Linked DNA regions of Homo sapiens: regions 1, 2 and 3 are each linked to region 4. The links come from fine-mapping of genetic effects on plasma protein levels. A gene starts in region 4. Each other region holds a variant in brackets. All regions are shown on one strand. Distances are from middle to middle.

Region 1 (2,679 bases), 33 kb after region 4:
AGTCAGCCTGGGGTCCAGAGCAACTCTTTCAGGCCGAAGGGTCAGCCCCGGACACCTGTGAGGCAGGAGGCCTGGCCGTGGGCCCTGAAAACTTCCTGTTTGCACCATGGCCCGGAGACCGGCCATGCCTGCTCCTGCGACTGGGAGCTCCCTGGGGACCAGACCACGCCCAACAGAAGGGGCTGGCCTGCCGGGGGCCACGGGGCCGCACAGCGCACCGGGTTTGCGGTCAGCTCCTGGCGCTGTGACCTCACTGCGGGGCTGCCTTCCTCTGCTCCAGCTCCGACAGCTGCTCCTCCCGGGCCCGTGCGTGCCGCACCCCCACTCTGTGCGCCGTCTCGGTGGCCATGATGTCGATCTGGGCGTAGAGGGAGGCGCCAGCCCCTGAAAGAATTCTGTAGTGAGCGGCAGCCTGCGCCCCGAGCCACCCAGCCCTGTGACCCTGCCCTCCACACCAGTCCCCCAGCCAGGCCCTCGGAAGCATCTGAGTGGGGACACCCTCAGGGGATGTGGCCTGGCCAGGGATGGAGTTGGGGACATTTGCCTCCTGGGGGGAGGCTGTAGGAAAAGCTCCCTGGCCAAGGGCTGCTGGGTGGGGCTGGGGGCTCAGGGCCCTGAGGCTGTGGTCCCAGCCCCCAATTGTCAGTGCCTCCACGCAGGGCGGGGACCCACCTCGGACACCCTCGCTGGCCTCCTGGAGCTCCAGGCCCATGTAGTGCAGCTGCTTTCTGGAGGATGGGCTGACGGGGATGTTCACGTAAGTGGGCGACTCGCCGCGCGGCCTCTCTGGTCCTGGGCTGTCCACAGCCACGGGTCCTGGGGATCCTGTGGGGGGAGCGGCTGTGAAGCCCCGGTGGGGACCGAGAGGGGCACAGATCTCAAAGATTGTGCAGTAAAGAGCTGCCCACCCTGCCTAGCCCCTCCTCCCCACTCCGCCTCTCCTGCACCTTGGAAGTTCCCGCTCCATGTTCCTGACCGTCCATCTTTGGCCCAGCGCTGCCCCATCCTGAGGCCCCCCCCACACTGTCCACTCCTGGTCCAAGTACCCACAGAGCAGAAGGAAGCGCTGTCCCCTCCACTGTGCCGCCTCCCCTGCAGGAATTGCCGACCCCCCCATGGGCCCCCCAAGGCCCACTCTTCTGTCCCTGCGCCCCTCGCCCCGCACCTTCCCAACTCTCTCCACCAACCGCCCCTCCTTGGCTGTCCCAGCACCTTCTCTACCTAACCCTCCCGGGCCAGCACAGCCCTGCTTTGTCCTGGCCCCCAGCACCTCCCCCTCACTGTCCTCCGGGGTCACCCCCACCTGCTGCAGGCTCCAGGGACCCCCTCCTCTCCTGCACACAGGCCCACGCTCCCTCTG[C/T]ATCCCCTCCAGGACACCCAGGTGCCCCACACCCTCTCCCCCCTCATAGGAGCTACTCCCTTCCCCCGACCCCCTTCCTAATAGCTGATGGTTCTGTCTGCACACCCCATTGGTGCTGGGGAGGGCAGAGCAGGAGCAGGATAGGAGGGGACCCCACAGGCCCGGCTGGGTGGGACTTGAGGCAGGCTCCCACCTTAGGGGGTTGGACGCACACCGGCCCCTCCTCTGCAGGCCTGAGGGCTCCGCACCGTGGGCACCCAGGTTCTACAGGAAGGACCCCGTTCTCCAGTGCCTCCTCCCATTCTTGTCATCAGGACCTCGTGAGGGAACGCACAGCCACGTGAGGCAGGGGAGGTGACAGCAAGTCCCCCCCCATTCCCTGAGCCAGTGGCTGGGAGACACAGCCAAGCCCCACCCACAGTGACCTCCCCACCCCCAGCACACTCCGAGCCCTCAGAATTCAGGTGGGGGCTGGGATCCAGCGGGTGACAGCCCTGCAGGGTCGGCCTCCCTGAAACACCTGCCTGTCCAGGGGAGGGGCCTGACTCAAGGCTGGGCCTCCCTGCCCCAGGGATGCATCCTCAGCAGACCAGGTTCTCCTGTGGCCACCCGCTGCCCGGCACCTGCCGCAGACATCCACTCTGCCTGGCTCCTCTCACCCTTGTCCCCGTCACTCCCTGCAGCAGGGCTAGGGGTGAGGAACTTTCACTTGCTTGCTCCCAGTGGGGAAACTGAGGCCAGGGAGACCTGACTCGCTGATTCTGCAGGCAGCAGCTGGGACAGAGCGAGATGGAGCCCAGGTCGACGAGGGTTCGCTCACCTGATTCCATGAACTAAAGCAACCAACACAATTCTGCCCCAACCCTGCCTGGCCCTGAGGCCCTGGGGAGACCCCCCTCCTGCAAATGTGTGGTCCTAGAGGGCTGGTCCCCTCGGAATGCCAGGACCCCTTCATCGAGATGAGCCACAGAACATAGCGGCCAAGTTCTGGTGCCCAGGCAGGCACCTGGGCCAGCAGGGACAGGGCCAGCAGGGCCAGCTGCCTAGAGGAGGGGGCATGGCTGAGGGGCTAGGCCAAGAGGGGGTGGTGGGAGAGGCAGGTGGGGTGAGGGCCTGGGGAGAGCTGAGGGAGCGCCGGGGCCTGGCGTCTGGAAAGGGGGCCTTGAAGCCAAGGGGCAGGGCCGGGGCTTGCCCACGGTGGGGCTGGACACCCCCCTGCAGCCTGGTACCTCGTTTTAGGATTGCATCCGTTCTTCCAAGTTTGCTCCCAAGGTTGGGCGGTGAGGGGTGAGGGTGGAAGCAGGAAGGAGCATGAGGCC
Region 2 (2,679 bases), 520 kb after region 4:
GGAGAGGCCAACGATATAGAAATCAAAGCATTTAAGCAAAAGAAACTGTAACAACTGTTTCTGTTCTTTTCATAAAGCTAGATTGTGGATTTCTATGTTCCAAGGTAGTTACACGGGGGTTTTTTTTGTTTTGTTTTTTTGTATTTTTTTTTTTGTTTTGCTTTGTTTTTGAGATGGGATCTCACTCTGTCACCCAGGCTGGAGTGCAGTGGGCAATAATGGCTCACTGCAGCCCTGACCACCTGGGTTCAAGCAATCCTCCCACCACAGCCTTCTGAGTAGCTGGGACTACAGTCACACACCACCATGCCTGGCTAATTTTTTTTTTTTTTTTTTTGGAGATTGAGTCTCACTCTGTCACCCAGGCTGGAGTACACAGGCTGGAGTACAATGGCGCAATCTGGGCTCACTGCAACCTCCGTCTTCTGAGTTCAAGCAATTCTCCTGTCTCAGCCACCCAAGTAGCTTGGATTACAGGTGCTCGCCACCACACACCCAGCTAATTTTTGTATTTTATTAGAGACAGGGTTTCACCATGTTGGCCAGGCTGGTCTCGAACTCCTGACCTCAGGTGATCTGCAGGCCTTGGCCTCCCAAAGTGCTGGGATTACAGGGCGTGAGCCACAGTGCCTGGCCTTTTAAAAAAAATTTTTTTTGTAGAGGCCAGGCTTGGTGGCTCACACCTGTAATCCCCAGCATTCTGGGAGGCCAAGGTGGGTAGATCACAAGGTCAGGAGTTTGAGACCAGCCTGGCCAACAAAGTGAAACCCTGTCGCTACTAATAATACAAAAAATTAGCTGGGTGTGGTGGTGGGCACCTGTAAAACCAGCTACTCGGGAGGCTGAGGCAGGAGAATCACTTGAGCCCGGGAGCCGGATGTTGCAGTGAGCCAAGATCGCGCCACTGCACTCCAGCCCGGGAGACAGTGCGAGACTCTGTATCAAAAAAAAAAAAAATAGGGTGATGGGGGTCTCCCTATGTTGCCCAGGCTGGTTTCAAACTCCTGGGCTCAAGTGATCCTCCCACCTTGGCCTCCCAAAGTGCTGAAATGACAGGCATGAGCCACCAAGCCCAGCCAAAAAATATGTTTAAAGCAACTCCCAGATAAGCCCATTTTATTACAGATTTTCAAGTAATTGCACATGAGAGTGACATATCATATACACACACTGTGCTATTTTTTTTTTTTTTTTTGAGATGGAGTCTTGCTCTGTTGCCCAGGCTGGAGTGCAGTGGCGTGATCTTGGCTCACTGCAAGCTCCGCCTCCGGGGTTCACGCCATTCTCCTGCCTCAGCCTCCTGAGTAGCTGGGACTACAGGCGCCTGCCACCACGCCTGGCTAATTCTTTGTATTTTTAGTAGAGATGGGGTTTCACTGTGTTAGCCAGGAGGGTCTCGATCTCCTGACGCCTGCCTCGGCCTCCCAAAGTGCTGGGATTACAGGCGTGAGCCACCGCGCCCGGCCCCACACTGTGCTATTAAATTCAGATGCTGGCTGTGAAGGTACACTGGGAACATTTGTCCCCCTGCACAAAGCAGCTAACCTCCGGGCTAA[G/C]AAATAAATGGCTTGGAGGAAATAGCTCTAACACTACAAATCATTTTATAAATTCTCGTTCACACTCTCCCTTCAACCAGTCTTCATACTTCAGTAGCTGCTACAGGACATATGTAATTAGGTAGAGAGAAACTGGGTTTGGAGATGAGAACCACACTATACAATGCACACCGTAAAGCCTGGAACTGCTCCCCTGAGCTCATACCAGTCCGCCCAATGTTCTGTCCTTTCCAGAAAGGTGGGAAGGTGGTATTTGGGCTTCATACAATTGGGATATGCTAGTTGAGGGCCTAGCGGTAAACTTCCCAGAAAAAGGAAAAGACGGAAAGCAGATTGAGGCCAGAGGGAGGAGGCCCACATGAGAAGGGGGCTAGAGAAGGTATCCTCAGCCAGACGTGGTAGCTCACACCTGTAATCCCAACACTTTGGGAAGCTGAGGCAGGTGGATCACTTGAGCCCAGGAGTTCAAGACCAGCCTGAGCAACATAGGGAGATCTCATCTCTCTCTCTTTTTTTTGAAACGGAGTCTCGCTCTGTTGCCCAGGCTGGAGTGCGGTGGTGCAATCTCAGCTCACTGCAACCTCCGCCTCCCAGGTTCAAGTGATTCTCCTGCACCAGCATCCCAAGTAGCTGGGACTACAGGCACGCGCCACCAGGCCCACCTAATTCTTTTTGTATTTTTAGTAGAGACGGGATTTCACCATGTTGGTCAGGCTGGTCTCGAACTCCTGACCTCAGGTGATCCACCCTCCTTGGCCTCCCTAAGTGGTGGGATTACAGGTGTGAGCCACCGCGCCTGGCCAGAGATCTCATCTCTAAAAAATAAGAATAAAAATAAAAAAATTAAAACCTAGTTGGGCATGGTGGTGTGTGCCTGTGGTCCCAGCTGCTTGGGAGGCTGAGGTAGGAGGATCACTTGGGCCTGGAAGGTTGAGGCTGCAGTGACCCAAGATCGTGCCATTGCGCTCCAGCCTGGACAACAGAGCGAAACCCTGTGTCAAAAAAAAAAAAAAAAAAGAGAGAGAGAGAGAGAAGGTATCCTCAAGCACAGCCAAGTCACAGTGTCCCAGGGGCCAGAGAAATTGACTGGAGGCTGAGAGCAAACAGAGATAAGCTCTGGCTG
Region 3 (2,679 bases), 920 kb after region 4:
TGAGGCAGGAGAATGGTGTGAACCCGGGAGGCGGAGCTTGCAGTGAGCCGAGATAGTGCCACTGCACTCCGGCCTGGACAAAAGAGCGAGAGACTGTCTCAAAAAAAAAAAAAAAATGGATTTGATCAAAATATAAATCTTTTGCTCTTCAGAGGACAGTGCTGTATAATGAAAATGCCAGTCACACGCTGAGAGAAAATGTTTGTGAAGCCTGTCTAATAAAGGGCTTGTATTGAGATTATATAAAAATATCTCACAACTCATTAAGACAACTCAATAAAAATGAGCAGAAGATCTGAACAGCCACTTTTCCAAAGAGATACAAATGGAAAATAGGTACATGAAAAGATGCTCAACAAGTCGTTAAGAAAATGCAGATTAAGCCGGGCGTGGTGGCTCACGCCTGTAATCCCAGCACTTTGGTAGGCTGAGGCGGGTGGATCACCTGAGGTCGGGAGTTCAAGACCAGACTGACCAACATGGTGAAACCCCGTTTCCACTAAAAATACAAAAAAAAAATTAACTATGCATGGTGGCTGGCGCCTGTAGTCCCAGCTACATGGGAGGCTGAGACAAGAGAACTGCTTGAACCTGGGAGGTGGAGGCTGCAGTGAGCCGAGATTGAGCCACTGCACTCCAGCCTGGGTGACACAGTGAGACTCTGTCTCAAATAAATAAATAAATAAATAAATAGAAAATGCAGATTAAAACCATAATGAAGGATAACACTACAAACCACTAGAATGGCTGTAAGTAAAGACTGCCAATATCCAGCACTTGGCAAAGATAAAGATCAACTGGACCTCTCATACGTGGCTGCAGAACAGTATAAGCACTTACCCTATAGGACTCAGCAATTCCACTCCCAGGTGTTTATCAAAGAGAAGTAAATTGCATCCACTTAAAAGACTGATACTCGGCCGGGCACGGTGGCTCATGCCTGTAATCCCAGCACTTTGGGAGGCGGAGGCGAGTGGATCACCTGAGGTTGTAAGTTTGAGACCAGCCTGACCAACATGGAGAAACCCTGTCTCTACTAAAAATACACAACTAGCTGGGCGTGGTGGTGCATGCCTGTAATCTCAGCTACTTGGGAGACTGAGGCAGGAGAATCGCTTGAACTTGGGAGGCGGAGGCTGCGGTGAGCCGAGATCGCGCCATTGCACTCCAGCCTGGGTGACAAGAGCGAAACTCCATCTCAAAAAAAAAAAGACTGATACTCAAATGTTCCTAGTAGCTCTACTCATAACAGCCCAAACTGGAAAATACAAACGTCTCTCTATTGATGAATGGATAAACAAATTGTGGTTTATCCATACAATGGATTATTACCCAGAAATAAAAGGAATTAACTATTGCTACATGCAACAACAGAGATGACTCTCAAAAGCATTATGCTAAAGGAAAAAAGCCAAAGATCACCACTCAGCTTATCTTTCTGTAAGGCTAACTCAAGTCAATCTGGCAA[T/C]TTTGAGTAGTTCCAACAAATTACATTAGCAACTACTTTCATGAAGTTCACTGCAAAGAAATCTGTACGTTTCTAATATGACCTAAAACCCAACAGGGCAAGCATTCAAGGTAAGGACCAATACTAGCAAACTCTTAAATGGCTGGTTTAAGTTGGGACTATATGCCTTGATTGATCTATGGGCGTAGTAACCATTGGGTAACAATTCAAGATAATGACAAATACTAGCGAGTTTTTTTTGTTTTGTTTTGTTTTTGAGACAGAGTCTCGCTCTGTCGCCAGGCTGGAGTTTAGTGGCGTGATCTCGGCTCACTGCAACCTCCAACTCTCTGGTTCAAGCGATTCTCCTGCCTCAGCCTCCTGAGTAGCTGGGATTACAGGCACCCGCAACCAAGCCCAACTAATTTTTGTATTTTTAGTAGAGATGGGGTTTCATCATGTTGGCCAGGCTGGTCTCAATCTCCTGACCTCAGGTGACCCATCTGCCTCGGCCTCCCAAAATGCTGGGATTACAGGAGTGAGCCACTGCGCCCAGCCAGCAAACTCTTTTTTTTTTTTTAAGACGGAGTCTCGCTCTGTCATTAGGCTGGAGTGCTGTAGCGCCATCTCAGCTCACTGAAACCTCAGCCTCCCGGGTTAGAGGGATTCTCCTGCCTCAGCCTCCTGAGTAGCTGGGACTACAGATGCACAACACCACACCCAGCTGATTTTTTATATTTTTAGTAGAGACGGGGTTTCACCGTGTTAGCCAGGATGGTCTCGATCTCCTGACCTCATGATCCACCCGCCTCGGCCTCCCAAAGTGCCGGGATTACAGGCGTGATCGGCCTAGGCCGCCGTGCACGGTGGCCTACGCCAGCAAACTCTTAAATGGCTTAAGTTGGGACTATATGCCTTGATTAATCTATGGGCATAATAACTATTGGAGAACCCAGTTCCTTAGTGTAAAATGCAACTTACATTTTAATAATATGATATATGAGAATAAAGACAACTGCTAATGCCCATAATCAAAATGGAGTCTAAAACAGCCTTGAAAACAGAAAAATAGATAGAAACTTAAGACTACTTGCCGAGTAGTCTTCTTTATGACAGGATGCTTGAGTTCAGGGCCCTTTAAAGAAAAAACAATTACCCCAAAGTGCCATCCCCTCACCGTATCTCCCACCAGACTAAAACTATTTTTGTTAAACATATGCAAATGTTAAAAT
Region 4 (2,679 bases):
CTAAGATGCAGTAACAGACTGAATTTACCCTCTTGCCTGAAACAACTCAACAGCTGGAAAAAAAGAAATGAAACGATGGCTCTGAAAATACTAGAAAAGCAGCACAGGACAGAAGCAGATCACCTTGATTCCAGGGACCTGAAATCTTCTCTGGAACAACACAAGATACAATTTAAATGTAAATTAGGGTAGGCCCAGTGGCCCACGCCTGTAATCCCAGCACTTTGGGGGACCAAGACGGGAGGGTTGCTTGAGCCCAGGAGTTGGAGAACAGCCTGGACAACATAGGGAGACCTAATTTCTACCAAAAAATTTCAAAAATTAGCTGGGCGTGGTGACACGCACCTATAGTTCCAGCTACTTGGGAGGCTGAGGCAGGAGGATCGCTTTAGCCCAGGAGGTCGAGGCTGCAGTGAGCCATGATCATGCCACTGCACTCCAGCCTCGATGACAGAGACCCTATCCCCCCACGCAAAAAAAGGAAATGAATTAACATTAATTCCTCTCAAGATGCCCAGGCTCTATTCACCCCCTTTGTCATTGTCCCTCCAGTTGGAAATTCCTCCCTCCCCCCGCAAAATCCCGCCCACCCTTGGAGGCCTTTTCAGATCATTCTTGCCAGATGAGCTCCCCTTGTCCCTTCTCTGAGCCCAAAGGGGCCCAGCTGCTGTCTGTCTCCCTCCTTCCCCTTGTTTCCCGCGCTACCTCCAGGGCACTTCCCAACTCACTGGCCAAGCCCCCAACGAGCGGTCTATGCTAACTTTGGCTCTGTGAATTTCCTAGAGTGTCATGGGTTGGGGAAAAGCGCGCGAAGTCCTGCCTTGCAGCAGGCGCGAGAGCAGGCGCTTGGGACGCGGGTTGGGGCAGGGGCCCCGGGACGTAGGGGGACGTCTGCGCGGCCCTGCGTCCCCGGGACAACCTGGCCTGGGCTTACCCACGGCCAGGCGCTCCGCGGAGGGCAGAAGCGGGCTGGGCCAGGCTCCTCAGCGCCAGGCCCGGGCCGCAGTGCCAACCCCGCAACGGCACTGGACATGCAAGAGTCGGCGTCAGTGCGCGTGAAGCCGGAGCATTATCAGGCTCAGCCAAACGCGGCCCGGTTCTTGGGCTTTCCGCTCTTTCTGTGGGGCAGAGAGGGAAAGAGGCCTCGAGTCGTGCGGGCTCCAGGCTCCGGGCTCTGGGTGAGGCCTGATCCCTGCTCCCACCCGGCCACCCTCATTCTCCAGTTGTATCCCCTGCCAGAGTCTGCAGCCTCGGGCCGCGGCGTGGTTGCCTGGGAAACGCTTGCGCCTGCGCAGGGCTTCCTAGGCGCTGGAGTCCGCCGGCGGCCTCGCCGCTGCCGGCCGCTCACGGAGGAACTACAATTCCCAGGAGACCGCGCGGTGGGTGGGGGCGGGGTAGTGGGCGGGGCATCGGCAGGCTAGGTTTTCTCCGCGCAGCGCCAGTCGCAGAGGAAGATGGCGCCGCGGAGGGTCAGGTCGTTTCTGCGCGGGCTCCCGGCGCTGCTACTGCTGCTGCTCTTCCTCGGGCCCTGGCCCGCTGCGAGCCACGGCGGCAAGTACTCGCGGGAGAAGAACCAGCCCAAGCCGTCCCCGAAACGCGAGTCCGGAGAGGAGTTCCGCATGGAGAAGTTGAACCAGCTGTGGGAGAAGGCCCAGCGAGTGAGCGCGGCCCGCGGTCGGTGGAGCGGGGCCTGGGGGCGGGGGCCGTGGTTGGGGTCGTTGGAGCGGGGCCCAGGGGTCGGAGGCGGAGGGGGGCGCAGCCGGGGCACCTGTGCCCTACGCGCCCTGTCCTTGGCACAGCCTCCCCCAAGTGTCAGGTGGGGCGCCCCGACCCCTTCTGCAGCAGGAAAGGTACCCGTGCCGGCGACGACGCCGTGTGAAGCAGGTGGCGGCCGGCACCCCGAGGGTCAGTGTCGCCCTCCCCAGCCTGGGCGGCCTGCTGACCCGAGCGTAGGGACAGAACCAGGCTAGATCACAGGTCTCCTGCCTCCCGAGCCTTTGCCTGTTCCCTCAACCTTATCTCCCTATGTGGGGAAACAAGAAAAACAAAATGTTGGGTAGAAAGACGTGTCCAGGGACAGAAGGAATCCCAGTAGCAAGCCCGTGCTTGTTCATTTGAGCGAGAAATGAGGAGGTGAGGAGATGGGATCGGTTTAGAGCACATAAAACGCGACCTTGGGAATGCTGAAAGTCAGTCTTAACAGGGCGCTCACCTGACCTCTCCTTCATTTGAGAGATGAGGGTACGGAGGCCCCGAGGGGAAAGGGCACCCCCAAGGTGGCTCGGCCGGTGGGGCCCCCCGGGACAACAGCTTCCTAATTGGTGCGTGACCCTGGGCCAGCTGCTCTCTTCATTAAGATACGGTTGCTTCATTTGTTAGGTGTTCCTGAAAACACCTGAAATGGGTGTTTTCGAACTATGCCGACCATCTGGGCCTCATTATCTCATCTCAAATGCAGGAGTCAGATTAGATCTCTGTCTCAATAGTCCAGTTTTAAGCATTCCTGAGTCTTTGAGAGGGAAAGTAAGTGATTTGCAGAATAAGAAGGAACTTTTGGAACGAAAAGGGAGAGGAGAAACAGGTGGGGGACAGACAGACGACAGACGGTTATAAGACTGCGTGGGGATGGGGATTGACGCCTGGGCATCAGCTCCACAGGCCCTTCCTGAACTGCTCCTG

Alleles and levels. Alleles are on the strand shown, and positions count from the first base shown. The strength of an association depends on the size of the effect and on how common the allele is.
With allele T in place of C in region 1, the plasma level of the protein whose gene starts at base 1,445 in region 4 is lower (moderate association).
For the plasma level of the protein whose gene starts at base 1,445 in region 4, C is the high allele of the variant in region 2 and G is the other (weak association).
With allele C in place of T in region 3, the plasma level of the protein whose gene starts at base 1,445 in region 4 is higher (moderate association).

Evidence for each region. PIP is the posterior inclusion probability: the model's chance that the variant is causal. The UK Biobank Pharma Proteomics Project read protein levels with antibody pairs (Olink). The fine-mapping took linkage between variants from a reference panel, not from the people measured, so its PIPs are less certain.
Region 1: its variant is fine-mapped to the plasma level of the LRPAP1 protein (UK Biobank, PIP above 0.99).
Region 2: its variant is fine-mapped to the plasma level of the LRPAP1 protein (UK Biobank, PIP above 0.99).
Region 3: its variant is fine-mapped to the plasma level of the LRPAP1 protein (UK Biobank, PIP above 0.99).

What each region holds. Positions count from the first base shown.
Region 1 is chr4:3,498,397-3,501,075 of GRCh38, reverse strand. It overlaps a transcript of DOK7 not described here. Among named protein-coding and RNA genes, the nearest start is that of LRPAP1, 33 kb to the left of the region's middle. The variant C/T (reference allele first, on the strand shown) is at 1,361.
Region 2 is chr4:3,014,191-3,016,869 of GRCh38, reverse strand. The region is part of intron 8 of GRK4 (G protein-coupled receptor kinase 4); the gene reads right to left. Among named protein-coding and RNA genes, the nearest start is that of GRK4, 52 kb to the right of the region's middle. The variant G/C (reference allele first, on the strand shown) is at 1,557.
Region 3 is chr4:2,609,276-2,611,954 of GRCh38, reverse strand. All of the region lies in intron 2 of FAM193A (family with sequence similarity 193 member A), which reads right to left. Among named protein-coding and RNA genes, the nearest start is that of FAM193A, 74 kb to the right of the region's middle. The variant T/C (reference allele first, on the strand shown) is at 1,469.
Region 4 is chr4:3,531,188-3,533,866 of GRCh38, reverse strand. It overlaps LRPAP1 (LDL receptor related protein associated protein 1), which reads left to right and starts at 1,445. Exons shown (of 8, transcript NM_002337.4): 1 at 1,445-1,658. The coding sequence starts at 1,455. RefSeq lists silencers at 1,206-1,265, 1,706-1,955 and an enhancer at 1,456-1,665.